Linked DNA regions of Homo sapiens: all the other regions are reported to be linked to region 1. The links are microRNA targets in miRTarBase. Many come from high-throughput screens and were not tested one by one. Region 1 holds a microRNA gene; each other region holds the end of a gene's coding sequence.

Region 1 (5,076 bases):
TGGTCTTTCATGTTAGAGAACCAACCCAGAGATTGAAAAGAGCCATCACCATGTCCCTTGAGGTAAACTGCCTTGAGATCTCAGAATGGGGGAAACATTACAGAAGAAACCCTCTCTTGATCAAAGAGGGGTGAAAGCTGCATGTCGTAAGCATGAGTCTAATGCTGGGAGCTGAGGGCTTTGACACACGGTTGCCCCCTTCTGATTCATATGGAGCCCCCAGGACTCAGGTCAAGAAGCTGGGTACAGGTCCAGCACCCCCACTTCCTCAATCTGGAACCGTGTCCAATTTCTTCTTGCATCTCAACTTCCCCATCTTAAACTGGGAATAATACGTATTCCAGGATAGTTTGAAAAATTAAATGAGAAATGAAAAAGTATAAGCTGATGACCACTGTTGTCCTGTATCGTCTCAGCTGGCAGGCACAGCAATGTGTATTACCCTTTCACACATTTGACTCTTGAACACCGTGGGGGATTAGGGGACCAACTGCTCCACCGCCCCCTGCACAAGTGAAAATCCACAAGTAACTGTTGACTCCCCAAAAGTTTAACTACTAATAGCCTACTCTTGGCTGGAAGTCATACTAATAACCAACAGTTGATTAAAACATTTTGTATGTTATATGTATCCTGTGTTCTTGCAATAAAGCTAGAAAAGAGAAAATGTTAAGAAAATAAGAGAAAATGGATTTTCTCAATTCATATTCTCTATTCATTTTCTCTATTCATATAGATTTTCTCTATTCATATAGATTTTCTCTGTTCATATTCCACTATTCATTAAGTGGAAGTGGACTGTCATAGGGTCTTCATCCTCATGGTCTTTGCATTGAGTAGACTGAGGAGGAAGTGGAGGTGGTCTTGCTGTCTCTGGGGTGGCGGAGGTAGAAGACCACCAGCATGTAGGGGGACCCATGCAGATCAAGCCCCCTGTTGTTCAAGGCTCAACTGTAATTGCTTTTTGATCCATCTGATGAAAAAGGCTCAGTTTCAGAATAATGTATCTTTGACACCTCACTTTACTCATTTATCTTTTCAGTAAAGAGCACAGTCCTTGGACTCAGATCCTTTGATAATTAATATTTCATAAAGATGCATTCCCTTTTTATTGTATTAATTATTCCTTTATCTCCTATTAATACAAATGACACTGGCTTTCCATCTGTGTAACTGGTTCCTTTTGAAATAACTATTTCAGCTTAACAAGTCAACTAAGGTGACAAAAACTAGATCATAATAGAGACAATACTTAGACGTAGCAAAATTGCAGGGAAGAAATGCAGTGCCAGTGGATGTGGCCAAACCCTCAGAGAGGAAAGAGGCTGAGGCTGGACAAAGGCTGATGTTGGCGACACGTGTGGGGCAGCATCAGACGTGTGAGACTGCGTGTTTCTCGTGTGTGTGTGTGTGTGTGTAGAGAAAGAGGAGGAGAGGACCCACACCAGAACCAGATGCTGTATGGGGTGGAAGGGGTGGACAGGCCCCGCATCCAGGCAGCCTTCTCCCTTCCCCTCCACCTGCATCAGCTGAGCATGTGAAGTCCCCCTGGCAGGCCCCCGTGCAGGGACTCAGGATGCAAATTGGGCCCGAGGTGGAGGTGGAGGGGTAGGTAAGATCACCTCCTGCTTTGGCTGTTTTCTTCTTCCCGCTGGCAGCAGGGCAGGACCCTGGGCTGCTGTTCAGCTACATTCTGACCTGCATGCATTGGGGTAAAGATAGGCCACTGAGCCTGAGGCCTCAGAGGCAGCTGCTTCCTCTCCTGGGATCACAGGTGAAAAGCAGGTGTGCTGACTCCACTGGCAGACTCCTGATCTCCAGGCTTCTGAACTGTCCTGGCTGTGGTAGTCAGTGCTGTCCTGGCAGGTTTGCTACACAGTGCTCGAGAAAACCCGGAGCCAGCCAGAGCCCCTCCTCAGCACTTTCAACAATGACCTGTAAGCATCTGTTTCCCGGTCCTGAATCCCTTCCTGCTTGACCCAGCAGAGGGGCTCTGTGTCATGAGTGAACTCTGACAGTCGCCCTACCCCTCTACCTGGTGCGTGGAAGGCAGAAGGAAGGACAGAATTGTCATGACAATGTCATCTCCACCGGATCCTGGGTGATTTGCTCAGGGCTTAGGAGCGTGTGATGACTTACACCTGACCCATCCCTTTACCGCCTATAGGAGATCCCTATCCTGCGTCTTTTCACCTTCTTGGCAGTGTGCACCAGGCAAACCCTGGCCGATTAAAGCCCCCAGGAGTCCTGCCCTCACCTGCACACCTGTCCAACTAGAAAAGGCCAAGTGCACATCTCCCTCCATCCCTGAGGGTGGAAGTTGAAGATGCCATGACAAACATTGGGTCTTCTTTTTAAATGAATTTCCTAGCCTTTACCAATCCTCCCCGCCCCCCACAACAAATTTTAAAACCCCTTTTATTTATTTTGAGAAGAGAGTCTCACTCTGTCGCCCAGGCTGGAGTGCAATGGTGTGATCTCAGCTCACTGCAACCTCCGCCTCGCAGGTTCATGTGATTCTCCTGCTTTAGCCTCCTGAGTATCTGGGACTACAGGTGCCCGCCACCATGCCCGGCTAATTTTTGTATTTTTAGTAAAGACAGGGTTTTGCCATGCTGCCCAGGCTGATCTCCAACTCCTGGCCTCAAGTTATCTACCCTCCTCAGCCTCCCAAAGTGCTGGAATTACAGGCGTGAGCGATCACACCTGGCAAAACCTCTTTTATAAGCTAAAGTGTGAAATCATATTTCACAAAGAAAATACACAGGTAGGCATAGTTTCCATAAAGAAAGAGTGAGGGAGGAAGAGAGAAAGAACTATGACCAGATTGCAAAGGGCTAACAGAAACTTGATTTTTGAGACGGAGTCTCACTGTGTCGCCAGGCTGGAGTGCAGTGGTGCAGTCTCTGTTCACTGCAACCTCAGCTTTCTGGGTTCAAGCAATTCTCCTGCCTCAGCCTCTCAAGTAGCTGGGACTACAGGCGCTCACCACCATGCCAGCTAGTCTTTGTATTTTTAGTAGAGACGGGGTTTCACCATGTTGGCCAAGATGGTCTCAATCTCTTGACCTCGTGATCTGCCCACCTCGGCCTCCCAAAGTGCTGGGATTACAGGTGTGAGCCACCACGCTCGGCCGGGAACTTAATTTTTTTAGCACTATCAGAATAACCCTGGCTCCCTGCTCCCTCTGGTTTGCTTTGATTAACATTTCCAGGACAAGTCTATGGAAATAACCAACCCCAGGCCCTGCTTAGCCTATTTATTTTCTGTAGCAACTGTGGCATTGGCTCTACAGGGTCAGATTCGTAATTAGAACTCCTTGGGTGGCAGTCTCTGTTGCTACTGCAAATACATTTATCAAGCAACACGATGTTATTTATTTCAACTCCCATTTGTTTCTTGCCACAATTTCTATCTGGAAGGAAGGCCTGGCTGTTCATTTTGGTGGGAGAACTCAATACAAAGTTAATTACTAAAAAGAAAGAATATAAAGAAGCCTGGAGACTATCCAGGACATTTCTTCCAAAACACATTCCAAGGCAACTGGAACCAAGCAAGAGAGGCTCACAGTGCTTTGAATAAGGGAAAGAGGGCACGAGGAGGGACCAGGACAATCTCCAGATCTTGCCAATCCTCGTTAGGGACCGATACACAGAAAATGAACGGCAGGAACAGGGAACTGGCTGCTTCTCACACACTCATCATTAAGGCGCTACAACAATTTTTTTCTTCCGTTTGTTCCTTCTCTCTTCACACTCTAGGAACTGCAGGGGCAGAGAAATTTAGCTGTTAGTTTTCAATATAATTGGACTTCGTTGTGGTGTGTGTAATCCCCTCTTCCCTGGTGCTGGGAGGTTTATCTTGAGGCCACTGCTGCTCTGGTGGAGTGATTGGGAACTATGTAAATATATTTTCTCTCCAGGGAAGCAGTGTACTTTTGAAGGGCTTAATAACAGACACAAAAGGCTGGACAATCTAGGAATGGACTTGGCCATGGATTGGCTCTTTCCTCCTTCCCTCCACCTTATCTGGTAATGGGAAGGTTTTAAATAGTGCTGTGTAATCCACATGACTGAAGTTGCAGAATGTGTCTTACAAGGACATCAGGTTGCAGGCAATTATCCCACGAAAATGGATTTAATTGTTGTTCATATTTGTTGCAGTAAAAATGGAGCAGCGAAAATATCGATGCTGTCTATGCACCAGGAACGGTCTAGGCATTTCTAAGGCTCTGAGTGAGCATCTCTGGTACTTTCGATGCCTCTCACCGATCTCCTGTGCCCCTCACGTAGACAACATACAGCCGAGATGTGAGGAAGCTGCAGAGGGAAGCCTTGCAGAAACCCTTGTGAAGACAGATTTTGGATGACTGCATCAGAAGGGTTATTCCAGAGACTTGGCATTGGGACTCTCAGTGTGGGGGAATTCAGTAAAAATCAGGAGATTGTCTGGCTCCCAACGCCCAACGGCTAGCTGCCTTGCACATAAGAGGCTACGATTAAGATGTGGGAATGAGTGAAATAACCAATAATCAATAATCTAGACTCCTGGCTTAATGCTAGATTCAAAGGAATCCAGAAGTAGGGAGATAGAAAAGATGCAAGTGAACTCCGAGACGGCCTTAGATGTAACACTTGAGTTGCCTTGGGCTAAGTATGAAGAAAGCCAGATATTGTCTCCAAATTATTTTATCTTTTTGAGACAGGGTCTTGCCCTGTCATTTAGGCTGGAGTGCAATGATGTGATCATAGCTCATCCACTGTAGCCCTGGCCTCCCAGCTCAAGCGCTCCTCCTGCCTCAGCCTCTCCAGAAGCTGGAACTACAGAAGCATGCCATCATGCCCAGCTAATATTTTATTTGTTATTTTTGTAGAGACTGGGTCTCACTTTGTTGCCCAGGCTAGTCTTGAACTCCTGCCATTCTCCTGCCTTGGCCTCTGGTATCAATGAGTCCTCTTGTACAAGACTTGCCTTGAACCAAACTGTGTGTTGCAAGGTTGACACCTACCAGTTCAGAACCTTCTTGGAGGTTTTTGGCAAGTTTTCCAAACAGTAAGCTCTTTAAGAGCAACAGTA
Region 2 (5,076 bases), not on the chromosome of region 1:
GAAAGAGGGTCCTAGAACTCAGAGGAATCCACCTCCCTTACTTAAAGGGCCCCTTTCTCTCCTCCTGTCCCTTGACCCTCCACCCCGCCCTATGGTAGTATCCATGGCCTAGCTGCTCTAACCAGGGCATCTGCCCCTGGTCCTGTCTCCACAGAGCACTACAAACACCACTGGTTTCCCGAAAAGCCGTCCAAGGGCTCCGGCTACCGCTGCATTCGCATCAACCACAAGATGGACCCCATCATCAGCAGGGTGGCCAGCCAGATCGGACTCAGCCAGCCCCAGCTGCACCAGCTGCTGCCCAGCGAGCTGACCCTGTGGGTGGACCCCTATGAGGTGTCCTACCGCATTGGGGAGGACGGCTCCATCTGCGTCTTGTACGAGGAGGCCCCACTGGCCGCCTCCTGTGGGCTCCTCACCTGCAAGAACCAAGTGCTGCTGGGCCGGAGCAGCCCCTCCAAGAACTACGTGATGGCAGTCTCCAGCTAGGCCCTTCCGCCCCCGCCCTGGGCGCCGCCGTGCTCATGCTGCCGTGACAACAGGCCACCACATACCTCAACCTGGGGAACTGTATTTTTAAATGAAGAGCTATTTATATATATTATTTTTTTTTAAGAAAGGAGGAAAAGAAACCAAAAGTTTTTTTTAAGAAAAAAAATCCTTCAAGGGAGCTGCTTGGAAGTGGCCTCCCCAGGTGCCTTTGGAGAGAACTGTTGCGTGCTTGAGTCTGTGAGCCAGTGTCTGCCTATAGGAGGGGGAGCTGTTAGGGGGTAGACCTAGCCAAGGAGAAGTGGGAGACGTTTGGCTAGCACCCCAGGAAGATGTGAGAGGGAGCAAGCAAGGTTAGCAACTGTGAACAGAGAGGTCGGGATTTGCCCTGGGGGAGGAAGAGAGGCCAAGTTCAGAGCTCTCTGTCTCCCCCAGCCAGACACCTGCATCCCTGGCTCCTCTATTACTCAGGGGCATTCATGCCTGGACTTAAACAATACTATGTTATCTTTTCTTTTATTTTTCTAATGAGGTCCTGGGCAGAGAGTGAAAAGGCCTCTCCTGATTCCTACTGTCCTAAGCTGCTTTTCTTGAAATCATGACTTGTTTCTAATTCTACCCTCAGGGGCCTGTAGATGTTGCTTTCCAGCCAGGAATCTAAAGCTTTGGGTTTTCTGAGGGGGGGGAGGAGGGAACTGGAGGTTATTGGGGTTAGGATGGAAGGGAACTCTGCACAAAACCTTTGCTTTGCTAGTGCTGCTTTGTGTGTATGTGTGGCAAATAATTTGGGGGTGATTTGCAATGAAATTTTGGGACCCAAAGAGTATCCACTGGGGATGTTTTTTGGCCAAAACTCTTCCTTTTGGAACCACATGAAAGTCTTGATGCTGCTGCCATGATCCCTTTGAGAGGTGGCTCAAAAGCTACAGGGAACTCCAGGTCCTTTATTACTGCCTTCTTTTCAAAAGCACAACTCTCCTCTAACCCTCCCCTCCCCCTTCCCTTCTGGTCGGGTCATAGAGCTACCGTATTTTCTAGGACAAGAGTTCTCAGTCACTGTGCAATATGCCCCCTGGGTCCCAGGAGGGTCTGGAGGAAAACTGGCTATCAGAACCTCCTGATGCCCTGGTGGGCTTAGGGAACCATCTCTCCTGCTCTCCTTGGGATGATGGCTGGCTAGTCAGCCTTGCATGTATTCCTTGGCTGAATGGGAGAGTGCCCCATGTTCTGCAAGACTACTTGGTATTCTTGTAGGGCCGACACTAAATAAAAGCCAAACCTTGGGCACTGTTTTTTCTCCCTGGTGCTCAGAGCACCTGTGGGAAAGGTTGCTGTCTGTCTCAGTACAATCCAAATTTGTCGTAGACTTGTGCAATATATACTGTTGTGGGTTGGAGAAAAGTGGAAAGCTACACTGGGAAGAAACTCCCTTCCTTCAATTTCTCAGTGACATTGATGAGGGGTCCTCAAAAGACCTCGAGTTTCCCAAACCGAATCACCTTAAGAAGGACAGGGCTAGGGCATTTGGCCAGGATGGCCACCCTCCTGCTGTTGCCCCTTAGTGAGGAATCTTCACCCCACTTCCTCTACCCCCAGGTTCTCCTCCCCACAGCCAGTCCCCTTTCCTGGATTTCTAAACTGCTCAATTTTGACTCAAAGGTGCTATTTACCAAACACTCTCCCTACCCATTCCTGCCAGCTCTGCCTCCTTTTCAACTCTCCACATTTTGTATTGCCTTCCCAGACCTGCTTCCAGTCTTTATTGCTTTAAAGTTCACTTTGGGCCCACAGACCCAAGAGCTAATTTTCTGGTTTGTGGGTTGAAACAAAGCTGTGAATCACTGCAGGCTGTGTTCTTGCATCTTGTCTGCAAACAGGTCCCTGCCTTTTTAGAAGCAGCCTCATGGTCTCATGCTTAATCTTGTCTCTCTTCTCTTCTTTATGATGTTCACTTTAAAAACAACAAAACCCCTGAGCTGGACTGTTGAGCAGGCCTGTCTCTCCTATTAAGTAAAAATAAATAGTAGTAGTATGTTTGTAAGCTATTCTGACAGAAAAGACAAAGGTTACTAATTGTATGATAGTGTTTTTATATGGAAGAATGTACAGCTTATGGACAAATGTACACCTTTTTGTTACTTTAATAAAAATGTAGTAGGATAAACTTGTGTGGTGTAGAGAAGTTAAAATCCTCACGTTGTACATTTGTGTTTCCCTTTCAGATCCAAATCCTTTCTTTGTGTTTAATAGTATTTCTCCTCACTTGCACTCAGACAATCTATAGCATGTGGGTGGTATAAAAGAAAAATCTGGTTGTATGGCTGGGCCATTTCCAAGCATCCCCTCTTTCCTGGAAAGTAGCTCCTTACTTCCCTCCGTTTTGTTTGTTTGTTTGTTTGTTTTGAGACAGTTTTGTCACTCAGGCTGGAGTGCAGTGGTGCAATCTCAGCTCATTGCAACCTCTGCCTCCTGGGCTCAAATAATTCTCCCACCTCTGCCTCTTGAGTAGCTGAGATTGCAGGCATGTGCCATCAGGCCCAGCTGATTTTTGTATTTTTTGTAGGGACGGGGTTTTGCCATGTTGTCCAGGCTGGTCTCAAACTCCTAAGTTCAAGTGATCCCCCTGCCTCTGCCTCCGAAAGTGCTGGGATTACAGGCGTGAGCCACCGCGCCCAACCTACTTCCACCTTTAATGAGGATTCTAATTTCCCTGTGAAGATGCTAGAAGTAACAGGGTTCTAGTCTGAACATTCCCTAGTCTAGCCAGATCTCCATCTTATGCATCTTGTTTTTGATAGTCGTTCATTTCATTCATTCATTCATTCAGTCAGTTATTCATTTAGCAAGCATGTATTGTCAGTAAGTGCTAGGCACTGAACTTATTAAAAATCCTTGAGACACAGCCTGTCTCACAGACCAGGGTTTGGTAAGCAGCGGGTAATGAACTCCTTCCCAGGCTAAGGCAGGATTGTTGGCAATTCCCAGAAAAGGTGCTCTTGTCATCTCTGGGGCTGTCATTTGCTATCCACCATACTTGTCTTGTTAGACAAGAGCAGCTAGGCCTCAGGATCTATGCACTGGAGCTGAATGCCAATGCTACAGGTTAGCTAGAGAGCAGCTACTTCTGACAGCAAACACTGGAGTGAGAGCCAAAAGTTTGTTACCAATTTGTAACTCCCTTTGGTTACATGCAAGGAAATAACAGTTTTTATCTTCCCTGACTTTTGAGTTCTTTCCATGAGATTTTTGACACAAGCCCAGAGTTTCCCACTGAGGGCAAGTACATTCCCAGCCTGGTCTAGTTTTTTCTTGGCTGTAGGTGAGCTGTATTTATTTGTTTATTTATTTATTTCTTTTCTTTTCTTTTTTGAGACGTAGTCTCACTCGCTCTTGTCGTCCAGGCTGGAGTGCAGTAGTACGATCTTGGCTCACTGCAACCTCCGCCTTCCGGGTTCAAGTGATTCTCCTGCCTCAGCCTCTGGAGTAGCTGGGATTACAGATGCCTGCCACCATGCCTGGCTAATTTTTGTACTTTTAGTAGAGACGGGGTTTCACCATGTTAGCCAGGATGGTCTCGAACTCCTGACCTGAGGTGATCCACCCTCCTCGGCCTCCCAAAGTGCTGGGATTACAGGTGTGAGCCACCGCAGCTGGCGGTGACCTGTATTTAAACTAAACTTTACACATGTTGCTTCATATACAGTGACAACTCCCCCAACTTCATTTCTTACCTCCATGACCTTTATCAACAAACATACAGTTTTCCCTAGATGTGCTATGTTGGAAGTAGCCCAGGGAGGCTGTGTGTGCTATGCCTGTGTTGAGTGAGGAGGGTAGGGGAGCCAGGGATGGGGTTAGGGAAGGCCAGGTCATCTGTATCATAAATAGAATTTGGTTAAGACTCATTGTATCAAGGGGTTGTTACTGAAAGGAGTAGTCCCATTTTTATTTGTAGCTTCTGAAATAAATGTCCTAGACACTTGTTTAAAAAGACCTACTTTTTTGGATGTAAGGACAGGGTTAGTTAGGGTTGAGGAATTTTTGCCCACCCTCTTTTGAGTGTATGGTACAAAGTCAGCATCTATCTTCCTGATTCCTAAAAGGCCTAGCTCATGAAGGATATTTCCTTGTTTAGTGGAAAGCCTGAAATTCGGGGAAGGTTGTCTGGAGACTGAGGGGACCCTTCACCCACGTGTGTCTTCAAGTCAGGGAAGCCACAGCATGGCAGATTCACCTCAGGGCCACTCTCGGCTGTTGGTAAACTAGTAGTCCCTCAATTTACATGAGAGGGTTCTGTGGTCAAGCAATGTGTTTTCTTTTTTGATATGAACCAATTTCAGTAGAACTGGAGCATACCCATTGGCTACCTGGGGTTACAGGGGCTCTGGCCTGAAATTGCTTGAAGAGTTGCAGTTGGTGGCTTTCATGTGTTCAGGGACTAGGCATTGGTTGGTCTGTTCTGCTTCCATCTTCTCCACTTGGTAAGCAGTGCCAGCCTGGGAGACCTGTGGTCAGTCAGCTGTTTTTGAATGATAATGCACCTCCCCAGAGAGTGTAGACAAGGCTCTGCATGCTGCAGATTAAGAG
Region 3 (5,076 bases), not on the chromosome of region 1:
CCTTGCTTTGTTGCCCAGGCTGGAGTGCAGTGTCACAATCTTGGCTCATTGCAACCTCCGCCTGCTGGGTTCAAGTGATTCTCCTGCCTCAGCCTCCTGAGTAGCTGGAATTTACAGGCTCCCACCACCATGCCCAGCTAATTTTTGTATTTTTAGTAGAGACAGGGTTTCACCATGTTGGCCAGGCTGGTCTGGAACTCCTGACTTCAAGTGATCCACCTGCCTCCCAAAGTGCTGGGATTACAGGTGTGAAAAGTGTAATTTTTCTGAACTTCATTTTCAACATCTAGACAACTGAGGGTAAAGCCTACTTTTATAATGCCCTATGAGGAGTAAAACTATAAATTAAAATGTACTACCACTAGAAAGCATATTTGCAAGCAAATGTGTCACAAGGTCCTAGGCAGTGCTAGCTAAGAGGGGCCAGAAGTTGTGTCTATTAACCAATTAACAGATCATTCAAGAAGTAAAATTTCCCAAAGTAAGTGACTTTCACCTTAGGTGATTTTTCTTTCCCAAATCTGGCCCTAAACTGATCTTGATGCTTGCCCAACCCCAAAGCCCATGCCCAGCCTGAGCCTCAGCAAGTATGTAGCAGCACAAGATGTGCTGCAGGGTGAGGAGGCAGGTGCTGGGGGCAGAAAACACAAAGAACAAAGCATGCTTTCCATGTGCTCCCTAACTTGTGGATATAAATATGCATTGTCTAAATGGAATAGTTTAGAGTTTATGTGATTTCCTTTAAAGACTTGTAGCCTGGGCCAGGCACGGTGGCGCATGCCTGTAATCCCAGCACTTTGGAAAGCGGAGGCAGGCAGATCACCTGTATCCAAAGGCAGGAGCAGAGCCCTAGTTATTTTTCTGTTCCCCCTACAATGCCTTAAAGTGTACCAGCACTTAATAAATGGTTTTTGAAAAGACCACTCTCCTTGTCTGAGGACTACACAGGCCTGAGTGCCTAATGATCCTCAGTGTGCATATGCAAGAAAAGCTAAGGAGCAAAAAAGCTGTTAAGGAGTGGTTTCACCCCTTTCAGTAGTAGGGAAATTTGCTGGCGGCAATATACACCACTAGAAATGGTGCCTGCCTTTATATTGCTCATGCTAATCTGTAAAGCTGGGGTTAAACTGAAGTCACTATACTGGAAGCTGCTCCCCTTTAAGCAATCATTATCAAGAACGTATATCTGGTTAGACTGTTTAGTTTGCCAGGGCTGCCACAACAAATTGCCATGGACCGGGAAGACTAAACAGAAATGTATTGTTTCCCAGTTCTGGAGGCTGGAAGTCTGAGATCAAAGCAATGGCAGGACTGTTCAGAGGGCTGTGAGGGAAGGACCTGTTCCAGGCCTCTTTCCTTGGGCTTGGAAATGTCTTCTCCCTGTTTTCACATCATCTTCCCTCTGTATAAGGCTTTGTCCAAATTTTCTTTTTCTAAGAACACCAGTCATATTGGGTTAGGTCCTAACTTAAGGACTTCATTTTAACTTAATTCCTTCTTTAAAAACCGTATCTCCAACTACAATCACATTTTGAGATTACTGGAGGTTAGGACTTCACCATATGAATCTGGTGGTGTTGGCAGGGGGCGGTGTGTTCACCTGTAACAGACCATAATCACTTGTGTATATGGAGATATGTCATTCCTTAGTGTGTGCCTCCAAGTTTGGTGATCAGATCATCAAGTTTACATACTTGATGAGGTGCTGACAGCCTCTGGCATGTTTATGCTTCTTGAGACACAGGTAAAGGAGTGTTTACTAGAAAGCGGGGACACAGGTCAAGCGTGAAAAGGCTGACGAAGACTCTACTTCCTGTTACCTCTTTGCCCTCTGAGAATCTCAGCACAACAAAAATGCCAGGATTATGAGCCACTGACCTTTTTGAGAAGGAAATGCCAAGCATACAGTGAGCTGCAAGAATACTCTGAACTAGTTTATAGGCTTTGGCCTTGAAAACTCAAATTATTCCAGTTTTATTTATATTACTAAAATCTAGAGCTTCTTGGATATTCTATATGTCAATTTTTTTTAGTGTAGAAACCTATGTTAAAATGAAAAATGTAGACTAATGGGAAACTAAAGAATATCAGCTACTGTTTATGTTGAGCACTGTGGGAGCCACTGACACGTATGAACTTAACATCTAAACAGTATAATGAAGCGGCGCTCTTAATACTCTCCATTTACAGTTAAGGGAAGAGGCATAGAGAGCTTACATAACTTGGCCAAGGTTACAAACCTTCATCACACAGCAAAGCCCACACTAGAGAACATTCTGCAGGGCTCCAGAGCCTACATACACATCCTGCCTCTCACCGTGACCATTTACTCAACAGCAGCAAGGCCACCCAAAATGGGCAGAAAAGGCTGAAAACATTCATGTCAAAGGGCACTTACTTATTTATTCATCTTGTGAAAATGACTTAGAATTTAAAATTAAGAGGTAAAAAAATGGAGAGACAGTTGTAAATACTAAGCACTAACAGCTACAACTTCACTAAAAAGGTTTCCAAGCTTCCTCTGCTGTTTGTGTTCCTCTGACACTAGGCGTAACTATCTTGGGCATCATTTCAGTCTTGGGAATGAAGGAAGTGAACCCAGTGTGTGCTACTGAGATAAAGGAAGAAAGGGAGCTTAGAGTCCCAGTACCAGTGGTTTCCTGGGTATGGGGGAACCAGCCAGCTGGATGCCTTTGGCAAAATGCTGAGTTTGAAGCTGCCCTAGGAACCAGAGCTGCCCTGAGGGAGGCGTCACGACCCAGTGTCAGCAGCCAACCCTAACCATCCGCAACACATCCCCCAACCCTCCACTGCAGACCTGCCACATTTCTCCAAGGAGGTAACAGAGTAAAGGCATACCTTAGGCAGGAACAGGGCAGAAGAGGGTTGGAAGCACAGGAAGCAGTTTGTCTTAAGTACTAACAGCAGAAACAATAAGAATATGATCTCAAAAGCTAAAATACTCTAGAAATGCTCTCTTCTTCTAACCTCAGAAAGATTCAAATTGTACTTGACTTTCCCTAGAAGACTCACTCATCTCCTTCCTCCATGAAATGAGACTACCAGAGGAATCCTGTATTTTAAAAAAGTTTAATTTTAATCCTTCCTAGAGGAATACAGATTTGAATGAAATACATTCATTCCATAAATACATTAGCAGCAAAACCTTCCCACCAGAGTCCTCTACTCCAGCCCAGAGGTTGTGCCTTGAGCAGGAGAGCATGTTCCATCAATCCTGTCAACTTAAGGGTGGGTCTGCTTCTGAGAAACGCTGGATGTGCATGGGAGACACAATGACCAGGTGCATGGGTGACTTAACTAAGCTGGGACCCTGAAAACAGGCCCATGTGGTCACTATTCAGCCTTCTTTACCTTCCAAAAATCCTTTGGCATCTTCCATGCTTCTCTGATGAGGTTCCTCAGCACTGAGACAACTGGGAAGACCTAACTTTGCACATGCATTAAATAATGTTATTTTGAGTTGGCAATGTTTTAACACTTTTCATAAGGTAAATGAAACATAAAAGATTATTCCCTTCCTTCCCTTCCTCAGGTGAGTCCACATGTACTCATCAGGAGACAATCCAGCAGGCATTATTTGGGCTCTCTGTATCTCCAGGCCCCCTTTGTCTGAATGGCTGGATGTTTACTGGAGACAGGGAGCCATGTCTAAACCTACAAAGATCTCCACGTTACAATAACCAGGTGACTTGCTCAGGCTTCCATCAAAGCTAATTTCTTGGGCAGAGGCCAGGCATCTCTCCTCTTGTTCTCTCCATCACTGACTACTGACTGACTGCTGCTTTTTTATTTGCCCTCCAGGCACCTGCCGAAACTTTGGAAAACAAGATCTACCCTAAACTTCCAAGTGGCCAGGAGCAGTTAAGGCAGGTCCTGCTTTAAACTTACTAGCTGCCAAGTAGCACACTTATGCTGCTGTGTCCCAATCCATTCTGTGGTGAGTATAAGTCACAAGAGTCTGCATAAAACACTATCAGCAATCAGGATGGCTATGGGGCAAGGACCGTTTAGAATGTTACCAAGTCACAGGACCAGCAGGAAAATGGAATAATGGAAGAATGTGAAATAAATCTGATTTGTTTGAGCAGAAGGCAGCTTTGATTCAGGCATAAATGCATCTCCCAGATTATCATGTAAATAAAGACCTCAGAAGTTGACACTTCCCTCCCAGTCCACCACTTAAAACAGGACACATGCTCAGTTTTCCCAATCTGTTTTAAAGTGTTTTCATTAGGATACTCTTCTGTAAGTGCTTTATTCATTCCCAGTCTGTTTTGATTACTGGCTGAAAATAAATCAGGAACCATTTTATATAAAAACCATTATAGTAGATAACTGGTTATGTGTATTTTTCCATTTGCATTTTCATCCAAAATTGCTTGTTTCTTTTCCTTTTATTTATGTGCAGAAAGAGACTCATCCGCTGAATACACAGCACTGTTAATCCTACAGTCTTCTGTCCCCACAGAGTCTGCTAGATCTTCCTCTTCTGAGTCATCCTCTTCTTCCTCCTCTGGTGCTGACGAACTGGAGGTGGGCCCTTTGCAGGTTTTCAGGTGGCGGGTGAGATGGTATTTGGTTAGATAAGCCTTTGTACATTTTTCACAGACATAATCCCGTTTTCCTTCATGAGAATTGAGATGCTTCTTTAAGTGATTTGTTCTCAAGAACAGCTTATCACACTTGGGACACTTGATCTGGCGTTCTCTAAGAGGAACACAAGAAAAAACATTTGATTTGGGGTTACAAATAACAACTGAGGCAACACTTATTCTTCATAGCCGCAGGCCTTTGTCAGAGCAGCTCTATCCTTCTGAATCAGGCTTTTGCATAGGTGATATACAGAAGACTCATAAAACATGTATAGTTTAAAACAGTGTAGGCTCATTTTTCCTGTTTTAGAATACTATGTAAATTCTCAAATTCTATGTAAATTCTATATGTATTTCTTTTGTCTTGCTGCATTCTCTCAGTATGATGCTCATAAAATTCATTCAAGCTGCTGTATCAGTTGTTTGTTCCCTTCCACTGCTGTATACTATTTACAAATATACA
Region 4 (5,076 bases), not on the chromosome of region 1:
ACGAGGACATAACTCATACAAATTTATTTTAAATAAGCCTTAAAATCAGAATTAAATTGATAAATGAAGTAATCTATTGAAAAATGTTATTTTACATCCATTCTGGGTATTACCACAAATTTTAAAAGTAGAAGCATAGCATTTGCCAGTTATTTTAAAAAACCGAGTCAATACAAATTAGTCTCAAAGTTCTTGAAAATTAATAAGTGATTTTTCTCACTACTTAACCATACCTGGAATAACCTTTGAAGAAACACTACTAGCAAACTTTAGACAACAATTATAAAACCAGATTGTTGGCAGAGGACACAACAAAATGTAAGTTAGAAAATTCATAAACATACATTTATTCAGGAAATACAATTACTAGAATCCTTGATATTTCAATGATCATTCCACATTATAAAATATTCACAAACATGTAGTTTTTTAAGTCTACACCAGGTCATGCTGACATTCTTTTTGGATAAGCCATAACCATTTCTTCTATTAAATGCTATAATATCCATTTTAATTGTAAACAAAGTACTTGAGCCAGACTACTTAAGTACTTGAGCAAAATAACTTAAAAAAATCTTAAGAGGAGGAGGACAATGATATTTTTTAAAAACATATTTGAGGCTGGGCATGGTGGCTCACGCCAGTAATTCCAGCACTTTGGGAGGCCGAGGCGGGCGAATCACGAGGTCAGGAGATCGAGATCATCCTGGCTAACACGGTGAAACCCCGTCTCTACTAAAAATACAAAAAAATTAGCCGGGAGAGGTGGCACACGCCTGTAGTCCTAGCTACTCGGGAGGCTGAGGCAGGAGAATTGCTTGAACTGCCTTGAGGTGGCGGAGGCTGAAGTGAGCCGAGATCACACCACTGCACGCCAGCCTGGGCAACAGAGCAAGACTCTGTCTCAAAAAAAAACAAAAACAAAAAACAAAAAAAAAATTTGAATCGTCAAATCCTAAAGAACTAGGCTGCTATTATCTAGTATTATACTAACAAATGAAGTGCCCACATTAAGACAGTACATAATTATTAACGACAATATTTCTCATCTGCAATTTTTAAACATGCTTTCTCAAATAACAAACACGTATTTTTGTAAGTTTTAAAGGCAAAGGGGGCAGAATGATGACAGACATAAAAAGCTCACATTTAAATTACTGGTAGATTTTATTAAAAAAAAGAAAAAAGAAAAAAAAAGATAAGACTGTAATTACTTCCCAAATAAGGAATGCCAAGTACCTTTTATTCCTAAAAGAAATTACTTGGCCAGGTGCAGTGGCTCACGCCTATAATCCTAATGCTTTGGGAGGCTGAGGTGGAAGCCAAGGAGTTTCAGGCTGCAGTGAGCTATGATCACACCACTGTGTTCCAGCCTGGGAGACAAAGCAAGATCCTGTCTCTTTTAAAACAAAAAACAAACAAACCAAAAAAAAAACAAAAAAAAAACCTAAGAAATGTAATTAATCATTAAGTAGCTGCAAATTGAACTGTTCTATTTTGATACTTCCTAAGAGTGTCCAGTGTAATCAGATCATTTTATAATGGGTTATTGACCCTAGGTGTCCTTTAGAACCACCTGGAAAGCTTTACAAAAAAAAAAAAAAGGGTGATTTTGATTTAGTTGTTATGGAATAGGACCCAGGTATCAATTTTTTAAAGCTCTGCCAGGCTAATATGTAGCTAAGATTGAGAATCACTAAGTCAACACATTTTGATATATCAAGAAAATAAATGGAAATGGGGGTGATAATTTATATTTGTAATTTACAAATCAAACATCTATCATACACTTACTATGTACCTAGTTTTATTCACGAATCATCCATTTCTAAGATAAAAATTCCCATCATTTCCTCACTGCACTAAACCACCACTGTACATCTTTGCCAATGAATGACTGTATTTTTCTATGGTCAAGATTTAAAATTCTGGGATACATTATGAAAACTGCATTAATGAAAACAACCTACTGCTATTCATGCTCAACAGTAGCAAGCTAAACTACTGTACTTGGCTCCTTTGAGCTACCCTTATTTTAAGAATTATAAATAGGTGTCAACCCACACAAAGAACAGATTGTGGATTACCGTAGGGAAAAAAATAGCTTACTCAACTTACTAAAAGTTTCAACACCAAAAAAGATTTAACTTGGCTGAAAGTTCTGAAACAGCTGAGACACAGAACCAGGAAGCTATAATTTATAATGAAATGTTGATACATACTTAAAAGCTACTGCAGCTGTAGCTATACTAAAATAAGATTTCTTCAGGGTTTACTTACCCTGAAATGCAAGAATACAAGCATAACAATAATATTACTGTTTTTATATGCACCAATACCTCTCTTTAATATATAAAGCTCTACAACAAATACCTCTAATAATTTTACAATTAAATTAAGTCCATACTTCTATACTACTTTGGTCTCAACATTTTTAAAACATCAATTAATTTTGAAAATTTACAATTTAACAACATGATCCTATCAATAACAAGCACATTTTGTAGTGGATTAAAGACACATTCAACCATGCAATCCAGTGTTCAATACCTTAATGATAAATAACAATGCTGATTGACTTTTATTTTGAAAAATCATTGAAAACTGGAATAATCATCTGAGACTCACAGTGATCACAAACATGCAGAAAAAAGCATACAATTCTATTCTTCCTGAAGGAATGTTACAAAATGCCCACTTTTTTATATAGGGTCAATATGCCAAATTACTTATATTTTTCAATCCATCATCTTCTAACATTTGTCACTTAAATTTTTCTTAAAGTACAAATGTTCCTGTAAGTTGTAACAGAAAATGAACCCCAACTCTTTCAGTCTTTAAGACCTCAGTCACAGTCCCACACTAATAGCTGCCTTTTAGTAAAATAGTGACATCCAGTGGACAAATGAAATATTTCTCAAATTCCCATATTTGAATCATAAACAAAAGTTGCCTCTTTAAATCCAACAATTTTAGTATGAGTTCCTACTTATTTTGATGGAATCTACAGATTCTCATGAATACTTCACATCATAATTTCTATGTATCTTAAATATATCCTCTTTTCTTCCTATTTAAAATCAATTATTTAAATTGAGCTAGTAAGAATGTCTACTCTTGAAGCTAGTGAGGTTAAAGGTATTACTTTTCCTTCTTTGCTTCAGCTACTTCCCACCACCAAATAACTGGTTTGTCTCTAGGAATGGAAGGACTAAAATATAGGGGAAATACTGTGCATTTAAATAAAAATGAATAGTATTTAAAAGAAATCACAAAAGATGAAATCTGAACCTGTTTTGCATTTATAATTTGATGTACGGTTGAACATAAATAGGGATGTAATAAGTAATGCTATCAATTACATCCTCTTGCCTCAATGCTCAAATATTAAGAATATGTATTTTAGCAATGATTGTTTCAGTGTTTAAAAACTTACTTTCATAAATCAGTATAAATGAATATCCATTATATATTATGTTTAAGTAAAAGTGAAAAAACTTGCACTGTACTGAGTCATGATTTACCACTGGTTATATATATTATGTGTGTGTTCAAAGTACAAAATGCAGCAATGATGTTAACATTGACAGTGTAATGAACTGCCGTAGATGAGACTGTTATGCTTAATTTCTTGGAAAACTGTAAAGAAATTTCACAGGTTAAAAAAAATAGAGTAAGCAAAAAAAAAGAATTGGAGAACTTTACTTTTAAATCAGCAGCTAAATGAAGAAAACTTTTCCTTTCTAAAAAAAGATTAAGAATGTAAAAGTACATTTTAATATTAAAAAAGCATTTTAAAAAATCTATAACAACTTTATGACAAAATCTGCATTTGAAAAAGGCCTGTAAAAACAGTAGGACAGAATTGCCCTCATCACCTTTTACTTTTTCTTGTCAGAAAAAAGTGTATGCATCTCTGGAACCATAAATGATGTTAAAATAGGCATTTATAAAATGACAAGGAGAATTTCATGATAAATTTGTTTGTTTTCTTACAATCATTGGCATTGCAGCCATTAGTAAGTCACAAGGAAAACTTCTCTAGCTAAAACGCAAAATGAAATATCAAGTTTTGAAATGTATTAGGTCTGTTGCCTGCGTTTTGCTGATCTCATTTTTTCAAAGCGCGACTCCATTTCTTCTAAGACTTTGGGTGTGTATCGTACCACTAATTTAACCTTTCCTTGTGCGGCTTTCAGCAGTTCTACAGCTTTTTCATGATGTTCTCCTTCAACACTCTAGGGGAAAAAAAAACAACCAACCATACACTAATATCTAAGTTTTGAAAGTAACTCAAAATGCAAAAATGTTTACAATATATATAATGAAGAAAAGTTTTAATGTTATATTATTCCAACATTACAAAACTAAGAAATAATCCTGCCTTACCATTTTAATCTATATGAAATCCTCTCTTACATCATATTCTGTTTATAGTCTAAAAGCTGGCTTTTAAGTTCCAAATAATTAGCATATTAATCTATATGCCTTATTATTTCAGTAGATCAAGCAATTGGCATTTTATAAGAGTAAAATGAGGGTAGACTTCTAATTTAATGTATTGCCTTTAATAAAGAGCTTATGTCATAAAAATGACATTAAGCACTGCTAATTTACACTGCAAAATACACTTATAGTGCTTAAAAAAAAGGATCACTGTATTAATAGTACTGCCTAGGATTCCCTCAAGGCATTTCTAAACCACAAGTTTCTTAGGTTTCTCCTATTACTCAAATACGCCCCCAGGTGGTCACAACAGATCACTACAAATAGAAATAAAATTCATCCTTACCACTCCATTAACAGAGAGGAGTTGATCTCCACGTTTGAGGCCCCCATGTCTATCAGCAATTCCACCTGGAATTATTCGGGATATATAGATTGGAGAGTTTTGTTCTTTGCCTCCCATAATATTGAATCCAAGGCCCTCTTCTGTTTTTGGTAGCTCAACAACTCGAGGATGAGAATGTCCTTCACTGGCAGCAAATGCAGCAACAGTAGCCTGAAAGAAAGTTTTACATATTAAAAATATGACTTTTATTTACTTCAGTTCTTTCATCTTTTGTTTCCCCCCGA
Region 5 (5,063 bases), not on the chromosome of region 1:
CCATCAAGGAGATCCTGGGAGCCCCAAAGGCTCACATGGCAGCGACGATGGAGAAGAGCCCCAAGAGTGAAGTTGTGATCACCACAGTCCCTCTGGTCAGTGAGATTCAGTTGATGGCTGCTACAGGGGGTACCGAGCTCTCCTGCTACCGCTGCATCATCCCCTTTGCTGTGGTTGTCTTCATCGCCGGCATCGTGGTCACCGCGGTGGCTTACAGCTTCAATTCCCATGGGTCTATTATCTCCATCTTTGGCCTGGTTGTTCTGTCATCTGGACTTTTTTTACTAGCCTCCAGTGCCTTGTGCTGGAAAGTGAGACAAAGGAGCAAGAAAGCCAAGAGACGGGAGAGTCAAACAGCTCTCGTGGCAAATCAGAGAAGCTTGTTTGCTTGAGACTGAATACGACCAAATGGGCCATTGGGCCTGGAAAACGTGCTCTGACTTTGTCACCCAATTCACCCAGAACCATGGTGGGAGAGAACAGACTTGGCGTTGGAGCAGACTGGAAGAATGGGGGTGGGAGGGTGGAGGGGCTTCTCCTTTGTGAGGAATGACTCATGTCTTCTTTAACGACAAACTTAACCCTAAGGGCTACTTCTGAGACTGAAAAATCAGCTTTCTATTTACATGAAACACTTTGGGGGTCATGGGAGTGCACAGCATTAGACAGTATTTGGTTCACCCTGTAAAGTAGCCAAGAAAAGATGAGAAAAATCAAGATAGGCCTGGCACACTAGACATTTGCCTCCAAAAGAAATAACCTACAGTCTTAAGATGTATCATAAAAATGTTCTGCCAAGGATCTAAATTACCTTGGGTTTCGCATATGTCTATGAAATTCTGTGATAATTTTTTTCAATACATTGATTCACTGGCGTCTGTTTTCATTTTATACTTTTAATAACTCATCACTGGTGGTACTTTATCTTGAAAAGTAATATTTTTTATATTTTAACATTGGACAGTGTTAGCCAGTTGTAATGATGTATCAGAAGTAAAGAAAAACCCATTAAAGTTATAGCTAATAGATGCTGTTGGGGGTTAAATTAATAGTAAAATAATCCAATATAGCACTTTTGATGATTTTTATATAAAAGTCAACTGTACATTTCATTCAGAATAATAAATACTTATTGCTGCTAAAACTTCTTAAATGGTTGTTTCTGCTATAGTTATTTCTATTGCAGTTCCAAATTGCCATCTTCCCTTGTCTCATTTGCAAGTTCTCAATTGTATTTCTCTCAAATGGACAGGTTCCTTCTTTACTGGAGGATTTTTGTTTTTATCATATTGGTTTTTCATTACTTCTGAATAGTCTTAATTACGTTTACTAAATTCTAAAGGATTTCTGTGCTATTATAATTAGGAAATCAACGTCTTTGGTCAGGAACTTTATAATGTGCTATTAAATGTATATTACATTTTTGTGGAATCAGTTGTTAATTATTTGCTTAACACGTATGCCAGCACCAACTATATGCCAGGCATAATGTAGATTCTCAGGTTTCTTACTCAGTTAGATCTAATACAATGCAAATAAAGTTACTGCTTGAATTCTTCAGTGGACATTGAGCTAGTCCACAGCTAGGACTCTACCCTGTAACTCCAGCCAGAAATACAGCTCATTCATGTAGTTTAAACCACCTTAAGCTAGAATCGAAAGATAGGCATGAAGGTTTCTTAAAACTTGGAAAACAAAATCAGCCTAGCATAGCACACTCATTGAAAGTCTTTCTGTCCAGAAATTTAATTAAACATGACAGGAGCCCTGGGGCCCTTACTACTCCCTCATGCTCAGGTAGTTTTGGTAAGTGGAAACACCCTAAAAATGACTTTGCAGGTCAGATGGTGTCACGTACAGATCAACATTCCTCCCAACCAAATGCAAGTTTAGGGGGCTGTGCTCATTTCAATGCAAGTGAGTCTGTGCCTTCACATGCCTCTTCTCCGTGCAAAGATACTCAAAGCCCACCCCCCACCCCGCCACCGCATTGCTGTATTAAGAAATTACTCAGACAAGGTTCAAGATTCTCCAGTCTGATCCAAAAGGACGTATCCAGTTTTCATACTCACTCTAATCCCCAAACCTCCTTATGAGTTAGCCAGAATAGACTATTCACCATTCTTGCACCCGACTTTGGTTTTCCTGCCTCCATGTCTGTCCAAACTTGTGTTTTCCCTCGCTTATAGTGCCATTGTTTCCTTGATTTTAATCTCCCCAAATCCTGCTTCTCATCAGCACTCAGCTCAAATGCTACCTCTTCCCGGAAGTCTTCCCTTTTATCTGAAAGTAAATGCCCTTTCGTGAGTTCATCTTTTATTCTCTGATGGCATCTTTTATTTTCTGTCGTGTTGGTGGCATAAGTTTTATCCTTATTCCAAAGCTCCTTAGAAGTGTGTGATAGATCCTCTTTTTAACCCTAGTGAAATGCCTAACATAATGGCTTACGGAGATTAAGTACTCAATAAGTACCTAATTAAGGTGCTAAATGAGCCAAAAAATAAAAAATCAGAAAGTGAATGGTTTATCCAGAATTATAGTCCATTCTAATCTCGTTAAAGAAAAAAGTTTAGTTCTCATTTTTCCCCCAAAGAGGCCATCTCACTCTCTATTACACCTCCACTGTAAGCAGCAGTTGGAGGCGAATATTTACTCTCTATTCTTCTCTAGCCTGACCTGGCCTTCAAAATGCTTGAAAAGCAAACTCATGAATTATTTCCGGCCACCAGGGGGCCCCATGCAGCTACTTGAGTCCCAGAAGAAACAGTTCTATGGAAAGACCTAAATTGTAATAACCAAAATGGGATCAAATCTCTCCTAAACGTGAGGAGTTGGTGGAGATTCTCCATTTATCCCACCCTTACACACTTCCCTAAGCCACTTCACAGTGGCTATCTTGGGGTTCTGTTAGTACGGGAAAGACTTGCTCCATTTAGGGAGCTTCTAGTCACATTAAAAGGTATATACTGTTACATAGCTGCACGGCGCAGAGATAGTTCTACACACTGTGAACCCCAACTCCCACGAGGAGAATAAACTCAAATTGGGATTACAAATTATCACAATTATCTCATAAAATGTTTTTATTGGGTAAGGTCTATCTTTACAAATGGTTGTATTATATACAAATATGCAGGTGCGACAGAAAATAAATGAATGCATATAAAATGCATGCATAAATGTATTAAAAAGATAATCTGACTCCTCCCTAGAATATCAGAAACCAGCTATATCACCTAGTGGAATTCCCCCTAAACACAGACATCCCAGAGTGCACAGAAACAACTTTTAACCTTGTTCTGTGCAGCTGGTCTCTGGCCCAGGTGAGAATCATAGCTGTATGGTGGCTCTGCTCCCCATCTTACTCTCTTGGTTAATCTAGGGAATCCTGCCTGGAGAAACTGCACAAGGAGATCACGTGATAGCACAGAAGTTTGAGGCCAAAGGATGAACCCCAGAGAGCCAGATCACAAAGCCTCAAACCTACTTTCCATCACCCGCTCCCCCCCACCATCCCTAAAGAGAAAGAGAGGAATACAGGTGAGAGAGATGTTAAATAGGCGATACATATTCTGGTCTCCAGGCAAGTATTACGGTTCTGAACTTGGAAGATCTTGATATTATAGTGCTCGATAGTGTAACAGCACTCAACTGTACCTGATATTCTTCACCACACTCTGAGGCTGGGAGTATAAGTGTTCACTCCACTTTACAATTGAGGAAACTATAGTTCAGAGAGGTTAAGGGACTGTTCAGCTAAGATCTCACAGCAGGCGAGGCCTAGCACCAGGAACAATAGGTTGACCACACATTGTAGTTGCCCCAGTGTCTTAAACCTCTGGGCTGCTATAACAAAAGTACCATAGACTGGGTGGCTTATAAACAACAGAAATGTTTCTCTCTCACAGTTCTGAAGGCTGCGAAGTCCAATATCAAGGTGCCAGTATATTCCATGTCTGCGGAAGGCCCACTCTCTGGTTCATAAGTGAAGCCTTCTTGCTGTGCCCTCAGATGGTAGAAGGGGCAAAGGAGTTCTCTGTGGCCTGTTTTACAAGGGTGGTAATCCCATTCACGAGAATTTCACCTTCATAACCGAATAAACTCCCAAAAGCCCCACCTCCAAATACCACATTGAAGATGAGATTTCAACATATAAATTGGGGGGTGGAAGGGAACAGACATTCAGTCTATAGCACCCAGTTGTTTTGTTTGTTTGTTTCTTTTTTGAGACGGAGTCTCACTCTATCGCCCAGGCTGGAGTGCAAAGGTGCGATCTCGGCTCACTGCAACCTCTGCCTCCCCGGTTCAAGTGATTCTTCTGCCTCAGCCTCCTGAGTAGCTGGGACTACAGGTGCCCGCCACCACGCCTGGCTAATTTTTGGTGTGTGTTTTTAGTAGAGACAGGGTTTCACCATATTGGTCAGGCTGGTCCCCAACTCTTTACCTCGTGATCCGCCCGCCTTGGCATGCCAAAGTGCTGGGATTACCGGTGTGAGCCACCACGCCCAGCCTATAGCACCCAGTTTTATGCTTAGCCATAACCAAAATCATTTCCAGAATGTCTCTTTAGCAAAAGGAGACAATACAGGTATTACAACATCTACTTTTGAAAAACTCTTGTTAAAGTATAATTTACACAGAGAAAGTTGTACAGCTCAATGAATTTTTATAAACTTGTGGAATTAACATCCAGACAAAGATACTGAATATTGCCAGCACCCAAAAGCTCCCTTTGTATCTACTTTCCATCAGTATCTCTCCAGGCGAAACCACTATGTGGCCTCTAACACCCAGAGTTGTGTTGCCTGTTTTTTAACTTTGCATCAGTGGAATCGTATCAAGTATACTATTTGTTCCTGGCTTCTTCTTGCAACATTATGTTTATGAGCTACAATCTATATGGTTGTACGTAGTTATAAATGGTTCATTCTTATTGCTGTGTAGAATTCCATTGTACAAATACAGTATCATTTATTTAGTCTTTCTACTGTTGATAGACATTTGGATAGTTTCTAGTTTTTAATGACTGAAGATAGTATTTTTGGTAGCCAGCCTCTAACGGT
Region 6 (5,065 bases), not on the chromosome of region 1:
AAATCAGATGATTATTGACCTTCTTGAGACAAGAGGGTACATGAGAAACTAATTACTAAACAGCTTGACAAATGGCCTGAGTAGATACTTACTGCTGTACACAGGATGTTGTATAATATTTTGTAAAGCCTGTTGTTTTTGGAAGTATTTATGGTAAGCTTTCTTAAAAATTATTATGGTAAATACTTCTGAAATCCGGCGTACTTTTCTTTAAGCTTTGTCATTTCTGTTATGATTTTTCATGGTGAAATTTTGGTACTGAGATGGGCATTCTCTGTACCTTTATAGTACCACTCCAAAGGCAAGGAACCATGATTGACAACAGTCAAGCTGTGGATGAAATGACCAGGAACGGAGAATGAAGTATGTAAATCCCAGCTTCATAGGAACTCTTCTCATACTGCTTTTCAGATTAAAATTGCTGTTTACCTGGTCTCCGAATGTAATGCCTGACTGTGTCATTGCCCGGATCAGTTTTCCCCCTGCCCCATCAATATGTTCTCTTGCATATATTGGCGTGCTGCCATATAAAGTAAAAATACTGGAGATATTCTATATTTTATATATAGGTTTATGTGTTGTTGGGGATGTTTTCATTGTGCTCTTTTGGACATAATAAATAATTCTCTATTGAGGCTACATTCTTTTTTTTTTTCTTTTTTTTTAAAAGAATGGCATCTCACTCTGTTGCCCAGGCTGGAGTATAGTGGCTAAGTCATAGCTCACTGCAGCTTCGAACTCCTGGGCTCAGGCCATTCTCCTGCCTCAGCCTCTTGAGTATCTAGGATTATAGGCATGCTCCACCACACCTGGTTAACTTCATTTTTATTTTTTGTAGAGATGAGGTCTCACTATGGTGCCCAGGCTGGTCTTGAACTCCTAGACCAAGTGATCCTCCTCCTTTGGCCTCCCAGACTGCTGGGATCACTGCACCGGCCAAGGCTGCATTCTTAACCCAACTAGATTGTTTACTGAATCCCATATGACAGCGATACATTGTCCTTACATATTTATTTTTAGACATTGCAAAGTTATTAAAAACAGTTAACTATAGTTTTTACACAACGTAGGCAACAATGAAGAGTATAGACTGTAAGATTTTCATCTATGACTCATAAATCTGGGAGAAAAAAATTATTAAGACTAATGAGAAACTGAAAACCTTAAACTAATGAATATTATTTCTGCTGCTAAAAATATGAAACTTTCTGGTCTGTAGTTGAAATTTGTATGATCCTCTAGACTTGGGTATACTTTTCATCTGGTGCCATTAAAGCATCTCTAATATTGATCCTAAATATTTGTAAGTCCATGAGCAGTGAACTTTGGAATAAGTTTCTGTGTAGATACCCAAAGTTTAATAATTATGAGAGCACCTGATTTGATAGACAGAAAATACAGTTCTTTAGTCAAAACACAAGATCTGAATTTTGTTCAGGTGCTAGACCATACTAAATGTATATATTTTTAATTATAGTGATTTGTTTCATTTTTTTAGATTGGCTAATTCTGTAATTTTTTCCCCAAAAACATGTGAAGAAAGGAAAAGTAAATTAAATTCCTTAGAACTGTTTTAGGTTAAGATTCTCTGTGTCTGCCCATATTCTGCAGTCCTTAACTTGTTTTCAACTCTTTACCTCACTCATGAACTTGTTTTTACCCATTTGCTGCCAAACATAGGTGTGTTCCCTTCAGGAGAATCAGCATATACAGGTTATGATAGGCTCCCACCATTTATGCTTCTTCACTGATAGGGTTGCATTACTTTCTGCAGCAGACTATAATACTTCATATAGTACTGCTGTGTCTCAACTGGAAAGGTCAGGAATTTTAATGTTACGTTGTGGTCTTTGAAAACTGTTAGGCCTAGCAATAGATAAATCTCAAAATTAATTTTAAAATCTGTATTGACAAGAATAGGTAAAATTATGACCAGGAATCATTGTTACCCTTAGTTCCAAGAGGTGGTTTTTGAAAGAGCAAGAGGAAAGAAAAAAGAAAAGAAGGAAAGAAGAATAAAGAAGAGAAACGTGTAAGAATGGTTTGCAGATTGATTGGTTAAAAGTGTTTTTAGCACATCCCCAACCCTGAAAACTTCGCATTAAGAGCCAAGCACAATGTTGGTAGCTCCAAGATATTCTGACTGTGTTCTCAGAATGAGGGATTACCCATCACTGGGTATTCCTTCCCAAGTAGAAACTTTAGATTTTCACTGGTAATACACATTGCCAAGTTTTATGGGAAATCTGAATATACTGTGAAAATGCATATCTGGTTAGTTGTCTGCTGCCCAGATCTTATCAATACCAGTAACTAACCAGTATTTAACATAAAATGATACAAATAAAGGCCTTTTTCTATTTCAGTGAGGGTACATTTTTCTTGATATATATGTACTTTAAGGATATTGGATCTGTTTATGGATCTGTTTTAGGAAACAGATTTGCAAGGGATAATTGTATATATAGTAGTATTTAGGTTTATTTCAAATTCATCTTAGGGATGCCTAGATGCATAATTTTTACCAGGACATATTGAAAATATTGCAAAGAGATAGCCAGTTATATTATCCCATTCATTAGAAATTACCAGTGTAACTAAACATAAATATTCCAGTTTAGAGTGCTTAAACGTAGCTATCTTTCTTAAGGCCAGGAGGGTAACTTTGTGGTATCTAAAGGGCTTAAATTTCAGAATGCAGAATAAATTGCCTTTTTAAAACCAAGCATTTTGTACAAGCTTTTATTTTCAGTTTTTTAACTACCAAATAGGTGTGATGTACTTTAGAAGTAAACAAAGATGTTCACCCATGATAATGGATGTTAAAGCTCCTGCAGTTGTTCTTTTCGTGTTTAAAGGGTATATTCTAATAGTGGAAGCATCAAACATGTCAGTGATTTCATCTCATTCAGAAATAAAGAGATTAATATTGGTCTTTATTTTTTGGCATTTTAAGTTTTATATAAATGGATGCAGATGGAGATTATCACCCACAAATATATTTAAATGGATTTTTCTTAATTTGAATTTCAAGTAATCTTTTTATTTCAAGTAATTAGTTACGCATTTAGTTACATTGCCAGTTTTTTTTTTTTATCAATTTCAGTAAGACAAAATATACTAAAATGTTTAAATAGCCTCATTCAATCTTACATTTTGACATTTCAGCAATCATTCTGGCTTACAGTAATTAGATCCCCTGTTACGACACATGCCCTTTGTTCTTAATAACTAGCAAAAAAAAAAAAAAAAAAAAACTTTCATCTTGTTAAAATACTTTGCCAAATGAAATAGACTAGTCAATACATCTGATGTCCATAATTATTGGTAACTCAGTTACCTTCTAACTAATAGGCTGGTTCAGGAGACTCTCCCAGTTTATAAATGGTTCTCTTGGGAGCCTTTGGAAGCTGTATTAAATCTTTCAGTCTTTTATTTCTAATTTTTTCTCTTAATCTAAATAGAGGCCAGTTATCTATTTTATCAGCTTTTATTCTTGAAGATTCTCAGATTATGTTTTAGTCCCTTTTAGCTTTAATAGTCCTTGAAAAATACATTACTGTATAATGTGGCAATTCTGTAACAGAGACTTATTACTTGAATGAATAATCCTAAAATTTTAATATTTTAGCTGAAGTTTGAGATTTGTGGAATGAACAAAAGAATTAGAAACTTTCATATGTTACTTTGTTTCAGTCATCTGCAAAGTATGAAGCTGTAATTCTGAAATACACATCCAAGTGAATGAGAATTAAAAATTTTCTAAATATTAATACTAACTGGGAAAAAAAAACTAGTGTGAAGTTTACAGTTAGAAGAAACAGACCCAAAGTTGCCAGAAGGTAATAAATAAATGTAGTTTTCACTGTAAGTAAGTTATTGACGTAAGATGCTTTATTTGTAATATATTTAGATTTTGAAAGTTATTGAGAGATGAATGTATAAAAGCTAAATTTTCTTTTCTGAAGCAGTGAAACAAAATTGGGGTAACAAGGAAGCTCTGTTGTGGCAAACATGTCTATGAGGAATATTAAAACTAAGCATACTCCCACAGGCTTTAAACTCAAACTATGAACATTTAAATTAAGTTGTTCCTTATTTTGCCTATACCCATTTTTATCTTTCATTGTCGTTTTTGCTTGACAGTATGGTGACAGAGTATTTTTATTTGGAAAGTCCTCAGCAAGATGAATTAGCCAAAAGCAATAATGGTTCAGATTAAACAATAAAGTGGAATTGATTCAATCCCAGGCTCAACTAAGAACAGTCGCTCTCTGGATGTTTCATTTTAGACGATAGATAAGTTGAGATGTTGTAATATTTATGGGGGGTTAAGCCTGTGTCAGTTATGGGATGAAGACTTGTAGTACCAGTACCATCAGTGGTCATACTTTTTTTTAACTTTTTACTAAACTAATACAGTTAGACATTTCCACTCTATCGTGATTATATTTTTATGATGGGAAAATAAAAACACTTCCATGTTTTTATAAATAGTCTCTGCAAAGATTTCAGATGTTATTGGTATCTCGGTTTGGCAGTATCTGAAAAATTGAGATTGTCTTTGAAATGTTTGTGCTACTTTTACTTAAGTAAACCCCCACTGTGCAAGACCCAGGCCGGCTTCAGCTAATACCAAGGTTTCTGTGTGCATAATAGTTTACAGAGAACTTAAGAGTAAGGACTGCGGATTAAAAACAAAACTTTTTTTAACTTTAAAATTTTTAGTTTTTGTTCAAAGTACCTGGTTTATAAAGTCAAATTCTTTTATTAGTTCCTTTCTCGTTTAAATTGACTGATGTTGCTGATGAAGCTTAAAGTCCCAGGCACGGTTGTGGCGATATACTGATAAAATTGGTGCCTAGTGGTGGGAGGAGCTCCAGTGTCAGGACTTTTATTAAAAGGCCCTTGTTTTCCCAAATGCCAATCTAGCCACATTTAGATTTCATTATTCAATAAAACAGATGAAAAATCATCCCATAAATGAATGTTGAGGTTACCAAAGTACATCACCTGCTGAGGAAGGATAAATCTTCCTGCTTTAAGGGAGCCCTGTCATCTCTCC

Evidence for each region. Region 1 holds the annotated microRNA hsa-miR-646 (AAGCAGCUGCCUCUGAGGC, at 1,738-1,756, opposite strand). A microRNA usually pairs through its seed, bases 2 to 8, with sites in the 3' UTR of a target mRNA and lowers its output. Matches are read on the target gene's strand: a 7mer-m8 pairs with bases 2 to 8, a 7mer-A1 pairs with bases 2 to 7 and ends in A, and an 8mer does both.
Region 2: miRTarBase lists BTG2 as a target of hsa-miR-646. Seed matches in the 3' UTR shown: 7mer-m8 at 670-676 and 7mer-m8 at 1,069-1,075.
Region 3: the mRNA of PRDM4 is a reported target of hsa-miR-646. Seed matches in the 3' UTR shown: 7mer-A1 at 3,155-3,161.
Region 4: the mRNA of LIN7C is a reported target of hsa-miR-646. Seed matches in the 3' UTR shown: 7mer-m8 at 3,715-3,721.
Region 5: miRTarBase lists TMEM100 as a target of hsa-miR-646. Seed matches in the 3' UTR shown: 7mer-A1 at 1,135-1,141.
Region 6: the mRNA of ZBTB44 is a reported target of hsa-miR-646. The part of its 3' UTR that is shown has no 7-base or 8-base seed match.

What each region holds. Positions count from the first base shown.
Region 1 is chr20:60,305,214-60,310,289 of GRCh38, reverse strand. It overlaps MIR646 (microRNA 646), which reads right to left and starts at 1,816; the gene lies at 1,723-1,816. All of the region lies in intron 3 of MIR646HG (MIR646 host gene), which reads right to left.
Region 2 is chr1:203,306,950-203,312,025 of GRCh38, forward strand. It overlaps BTG2 (BTG anti-proliferation factor 2), which reads left to right. Exons shown (of 2, transcript NM_006763.3): 2 at 155-2,653. The coding sequence ends at 489. Among named protein-coding and RNA genes, the nearest start is that of BTG2, 4.0 kb to the left of the region's middle. RefSeq lists enhancers at 1-789, 206-445, 790-1,732 and a cis regulatory region at 4,736-5,076.
Region 3 is chr12:107,729,795-107,734,870 of GRCh38, forward strand. PRDM4 (PR/SET domain 4) reads right to left here. Exons shown (of 12, transcript NM_012406.4): 12 at 3,077-4,728. The coding sequence ends at 4,416. Among named protein-coding and RNA genes, the nearest start is that of PRDM4-AS1, 4.2 kb to the right of the region's middle.
Region 4 is chr11:27,494,567-27,499,642 of GRCh38, forward strand. It overlaps LIN7C (lin-7 cell polarity scaffold C), which reads right to left. Exons shown (of 5, transcript NM_018362.4): 4 at 4,793-5,002; 5 at 1-4,238. The coding sequence ends at 4,083. Among named protein-coding and RNA genes, the nearest start is that of LIN7C, 9.7 kb to the right of the region's middle.
Region 5 is chr17:55,715,995-55,721,057 of GRCh38, reverse strand. TMEM100 (transmembrane protein 100) reads left to right here. Exons shown (of 2, transcript NM_018286.3): 2 at 1-1,431. The coding sequence ends at 392. Among named protein-coding and RNA genes, the nearest start is that of TMEM100, 4.3 kb to the left of the region's middle.
Region 6 is chr11:130,228,606-130,233,670 of GRCh38, reverse strand. It overlaps ZBTB44 (zinc finger and BTB domain containing 44), which reads left to right. Exons shown (of 8, transcript NM_001301098.2): 7 at 289-363; 8 at 1,956-5,065. The coding sequence ends at 315. Among named protein-coding and RNA genes, the nearest start is that of ST14, 71 kb to the right of the region's middle.